2 separate regions of the Homo sapiens genome follow, and region 2 is linked to region 1. The links come from fine-mapping of genetic effects on gene expression. A gene starts in region 1. The other region holds a variant in brackets. All regions are shown on one strand. Distances are from middle to middle.

What was found. PIP is the estimated chance that this variant, and not a neighbour inherited with it, causes the effect. A credible set is the group of variants that fine-mapping cannot tell apart.
Region 2: its variant is the best candidate, but not a certain one, in a credible set for the expression of C3orf70 in lung (TOPMed, PIP 0.53).

What each region holds. Positions count from the first base shown.
Region 1 is chr3:185,151,637-185,154,543 of GRCh38, reverse strand. It overlaps C3orf70 (chromosome 3 open reading frame 70), which reads left to right and starts at 1,484. Exons shown (of 2, transcript NM_001025266.3): 1 at 1,484-1,916. The coding sequence starts at 1,721. RefSeq lists an enhancer at 1,299-1,438 and a silencer at 1,859-2,078.
Region 2 is chr3:185,074,757-185,077,663 of GRCh38, reverse strand. C3orf70 (chromosome 3 open reading frame 70) reads left to right here. Exons shown (of 2, transcript NM_001025266.3): 2 at 1-826. Among named protein-coding and RNA genes, the nearest start is that of C3orf70, 77 kb to the left of the region's middle. RefSeq lists an enhancer at 2,048-2,548. The variant T/C (reference allele first, on the strand shown) is at 1,673.

The DNA.
Region 1 (2,907 bases):
TTTGGCAAATAAGGAGGGGGTGTCCCCTCCTCTTCTGTGTTCAAGGCTGGGTTCTGGCCTTGTTGCAGGGAAACACTAATTCCCAGCAGTGCACCATGGGAGCAAATGGTTTGTTTCCTCTTCAGTGAATCCAGCCTGGGGTCGGTTCTCAGCAGCAGAGCCTGGCATGGAAAATCTATTTGGAGCAACTTGTCCCCAGGAGGGAAGAGTGCGAGCCAACTGTGTGGGGAAGCCGCAGCCACCACAGGGTCAGTCACACCTGCTGGCCAGAGCAGGCGCTAACACAGAAAGGCAGAGTCCTCCGCATACATGAGTCCTGTTTGTGTGCCCACCCACTCCTATGTACCACACACACCCGATTTGATCCGTATATGCCATGTGCACACTCGACATGCCAGATACACGCACTGCACTGCCACACATATACCATACACACACCACTCTGTATTACTAAGCATACCCACCCCCACAACACGTGCACAAGCACATGCACGTCCAACTACACACATATACATATTCTGCACGCCACACACACTCAACCACACACACACCACCCACACTCCACCTCAGTTATAACATTCATTTCACATACACACGTATACACACACCTCACCAGTCACTTGCATCACGCATACCACCCACCATGTACCATGAACACACCTAACCACACACAACCACACACGCATACCCACCATACATACTCCAAATAATCATACACACGCACGCAACACACACATCCCATGCACACCAAACTACACATACGCAGACACACACACACATCAATGCACCCAGCTTTGTTGCTTTCCCGCTCAACGGAGGCGGGGGTGGGAGGAGAAGGGGGAGGGGCTGCGGTCCCGGCGAAGGTTGGGGCGGGCGCGGGAAGGCCCGGGCGCACTGGCCTGGGGTTTGGGGCGAGGCGGGCAGGGGTTGGCGGTGCTGGCCCCTGACGCGCCCTGTGGCCGCGCTGGGGCAGGAGGCCCGCCCTGGGTGGGGGGAGTGCGCGCGTGTGCACGAGCGTGTGCGCGCCTCCCAGGGGCTCCATGCCCAGACACGGGGAGGTGTGTACGAGGGAGATGTGAGACGCCTGTGGGGACAGGCTGTGTGTGTGAGATCCTCGCTACGCGATGCACCCGGCCCGGGCCACTAGGAGGTTCGGGTGGGCGTGGGCCAGGTGTGCGCAGCCCTCCGTGGAGCGTGTGGACGCGTGTGTCAGTTCTCGGTGGCCAGTGTCACTCGGGGGGAAGTGCATATGTAGGCTGGCGTGCATGTGAGTACAAAGCGGCCGAGGAGTGTGTGTTCACCACGGCCCTCCGTCGGGGTCTTTCTCCGAGGAAGGAGTGAGTATGTGAGGAGGACCTCGCTGTGACCGGCGGGGACGCCGACGGCCAAGCTCCCCAGCGGCGTGTGTGTGAGAAGGCCGGGCTCGCTGAGGAACGTCGCGCGGGGCCGACCGGCGCGCGCCTGTGCGCGTGCGTGTGCGCGTGGGGCGCGGCGCGCGCCGCGCCGGAGGGAGGGAGGCTGCCAGCCCGGACCCGGTCGCAGCGCCCGGGGCGGCTCCTCCTCGAGCCTGGGACCGCCGCGCTCCCGCCGCCGCCGCGTGCTGGCGTGACTCCCGGCCCGTGCCGCGCCCTCCCGCGTCCGCAGCCGGCTCGGCTTCCTGCCCACCCAGACGTCGCTTCTCCCGGGCTCCCGGTGTCGGCTCCGCGCGGAGGGAGAGGAAATGAGTGCGGCGGCCTCGCCGGCGTCGGAGCGGGGTTGGAAGAGCGAGAAACTAGATGAGGCTCAGGCCCTGGCGCGGAGTTGCGCCGCCCGCAGACCCGACTTCCAGCCGTGCGACGGGCTGTCTATCTGTGCCACGCACAGCCATGGCAAGTGCTTCAAGCTGCACTGGTGCTGTCACCTAGGATGGTGTCACTGTAAGTCGAGCCGCGTCTTCCCGCCTTCCGCCGCGGTCCGGGGGACGCCCGCCGGGCCGTCCGGGGTCGCTGCCGGAACTCTGCGGCCGCGGGGCTCCGGGCTCTGCCGGGGCTGCTCTGCCGGAGGCTGGGGCCGCCGTGGGCTCCGGGCCCGCCGGAGCTTTCCTTGCGCCGGACGGCTGGGGTTGGCGCTGCCTTGACGACGAGATGAAATCCCGTGGGGCGCCTCGCTTTCTTTAGCTACTTCTACAAAAGGGAGCTCCCTGTCCCAGGGAAGCGGGAATCTGGTTTTTTTTCTTTTCTTTTTCTTTTTTTGACCAAGGCGTCCAGGCGGTGTTTTGAGAAATGGGAGCGAGCCAGCTGAGTTGGCGACAGCTGTTGGGGATGCCTTTTTTCAAGGTTGCTGGTTAAAGATGCTCCTCTTTTTCTTTCTCACTTTTGTCTTCCTGGGCTGCTATTTAAAAGAAGGAGCCCTTGGATATCCAATTGTTTCCCCCTTGATTGTACCCAAATTGAGAAAAAGCGCTAATGTGGGAGGGATTGCTTCCAAGAAGTTAATATTAACAGTTTGGAAGGTCGAGCTCCTTAAATACCCAGATGTAGAATTTAGAGCCAAATAAATGAGACTTATAAAATTACAAAATAAAATGAGTGAAAGTAAGCTTAATAGTCTTAAACCAATTTATAAAAGCTAGAACCAAATGGTCTAAACCCTTTCTCTGTGTTTAGCCTCCTGCCTGTGATTTTTAAATAGATTAAACTTAAGTAGCCATTTAATTAGAATTTCACAATTTGATTAGCTAATAGTATTTGGACTATATCCGATGAATCATTCATTTTAAGAAATATATTCTAAAGTTAGTTTCCACATATATTTGTAATAGAGGGTTTTGGAGTGCTTATTTAGGACATTTTCCAAGTGATCTTAAGTTAAAATGAATTTTTCTTTGTTGAGAAAAAAATAGCTGACAACCAGGAATGCAGTACATAA
Region 2 (2,907 bases), 77 kb after region 1:
GGCAGAGCTTGGGGGGGTCGCTTGGTCACCAAGACTCAGGGGCCAGGCCTCAGCGCGGCAAGTCCATACTCAGAAAAGAACAGCTTCAAGGGTTGGAGTCTATTGAACAACCTTCCTAGGAACTGCTAAATAAAGTCATTATCAGTAATAAAATCCTTGTTAATATTAATTATAGTTCAATGGCTACCTTAAGCTTTCTATGCATAATCTCCACAGCAACCCTGTGAGGGAGATTAAAGCAGCCCCATTTCACAGATCAGGAAAAGAGCTCAAGAAGTCCACATCTTTACCCAGTGTGGCACAGCTCGTACATGAGTGGCAGTCAGGGTTTGAACCCGGTCACTTTGGCTCTAGAGTCCGCACTCTTGGCCCATTGTCTGCATTACTCCATCCCCCTAACCCAGCAGATACCTTCCCACAGACTAGTGCCTCGTCTACCTCAGTGCACCTGGTCCCAACACAGTGGAGGAGAAACACTGACAGGCTTCCCTCTTTGTCCCCTTCTCTGTCCTCCATACAGTGCCCCCCCACCCCGCACCCTATACCATGTCTCTGCAAATATCTCTATGCTCTGATGAGGCCATTGCTTCTTCCATGTTTAATCACCTCTTGACTAGCATTCAAGACTAGCTCTGCCTTTCCTAAAGCTAACTGATCTTTTAAAGTGATTCCTGCAGACAGCGCATCTCATCTGCGTGTGCACTCTACTGTTTTAACTCTCTACCTAATTGTATTGCCAAGTCCTAGAAGGCATCTCATTGTAGCCTCTTACAAATGCTGACTGCACACACTTTTATTCTGCAATAAACTTTAATTTAGCATCTCATCCTCATTACAATTCAGTCACTGGGAATTGGTAATGCCCTTAACCCTTACTGTCCCACCCTAGTTCTATGCTGAATGAAGGGAGTAAGAAGGATCTCTGGACTCAGCCTCCCTGCGGTAGGGTCAGGAAGGGGCAGTTAGAGGTCAGATGGAATTCTTCAGGAATCAGGGAGATACGGGAAATTGATGGAAATAAAAAGGCAAAAGGAATGTGCCAAGATTAATAGTGTTTGTTTTAAATTTTCTACTTTTCTGAAATGAAGATACAATTACTTTTACAATCAGAAACGACCCAGTAAGTTATTTTGACGATGTCAACTCCTAGGACAGTGAGTACACATGGAGTCTGATTTTGCTGGATCTGTGCCTGAAAGTGGGTTGAGGCCGTGGCCAAACCTGCTCATGCACCTGCTGGAAGAGACTAGCAGCTGGGCTGGGAGTGTGCGTCATGAAACTAATGGGCCTCCACGGAGGAGTGACCCCTTTCGTGGCTGGAGAGTTCATGGGCCAGGTGGGTTGGAGAAAGGGGTGAGGCTTCATTTCTTCCTGTCTTCCCCAGTCCCCAGCCTGAAGTTGTGTGTGACTCGAGATAGGAGATGAGAAAGCTTGGGATCCGGGGGGACCATCCTGGCCCTGTATGACACCTAGCTGGTCACCTGTTGTCAAACCCCAGTGATTCCTCCCAGGACAAAGATGATGACAAAATACAAGGCATCGTGGATCAGCAGAACACCACAATGTCTGAACAGGGACCTGCAGTTTACGTAGCATCTTCCCAGATGGCAGCTTATCTGCTAGACCCATCAACTCTGTGTGGTGGACAGGGCAGGGATATTGGCGAGTTTCT[T/C]GCGAAGCAGCCAAGAGTTAACTCTAAAGGTCACACGGCAGGAAGTGGCAAGGTCAGAGCCCCAGACTTCTGATTCCAAAGCCAGCCTTGCTGCTTTACCACTTGTTGAGCCGCTGCAACAAAACCCTGCCCTGCTTTGCAGCCCATTTTCTCTTCGCCCCACAGCTGAGGCCACGAGGGCATCCCTTGCCTCGAGGGAACTACAGCTCAGCCCTCAGGTATCGCCCGAGGTTGCCCTTGGTGCCACATCACTCTGTGCGCCAGCCTGGCTTGACCTGGATCTGAGTCTGTCCGGAGAACAGGCATGACCTCGTGCTCAAGCGTGGCCGCTGGGTCTGAGAACTCATCCTGGGAATTGGCCTCGGGTCGGCCTTTTTTTTTATTTTTATTTTTATTTTTTGAGATGGAGTCTTGCTCTGTTGCCCAGGCTGGAGTGCAGTGGCACAATCTCAGCTCACCACAACCTCCACCTCCCGGCTTCAAGCGATTCTTCTGCTTCAGCCTCCTGAGTAGCTGGGACTACAGGCGCCCGCCACCACGCCCAGTTAATTTTTGTGTTTTTAGTAGAGACGGGGTTTCATTATGTTGGCCAGGCTGGTCTCGACCTCCTGACCTTGTGATCCACCCACCTCAGCCTCCCAAAGTGCTGGGATTACAGACGTGAGCTACCGCGCCCACCAGGTCGGCTCTTTCAGCAGCAGCTGCTCCTGTCTCCCTCCCTCCTACCTCCATTGGGATTGGGACCTTTGATACCAATTGCTTCCCTCAACTATTGCATGTCCTCAGTAGCATCCGCTTTGGACTTGCCTCTCGGGCCAGTCTACTTCAGGCGACTGTGTAGATCCTGACTGTCTGATTACCTGGCCACGAGTGTCTCATACCTGCCTCAACCAGGACTGTGTGCAGTAAACAAGAGTACATTTCAGCCCTCATGTTTAGAAGCTGCCTGTGTGAGTTGCAATGCCAAAATTCACAGAGCAAATATAGGCACACCCATTTATCTGCAGAAGGACCTGGAAAAGCCATCCTGGTCTATGAGCATCACCACTCCAAGCGGTCGGACAGGACTCCGGAGCTCTCGGGAAAAGTGGGAAGGCCACACAGTACCAGGAGGGGAGGTTCACCGTGGGCCAGGTGTGAGCTGAACAGGGGATTCCCAGAGCGTGTTTTCCCTGAGAACCTGGAATAATGAGGCAATTCCAGCCTAATTCAGAGGCTGCACTGAGTATGTGGGA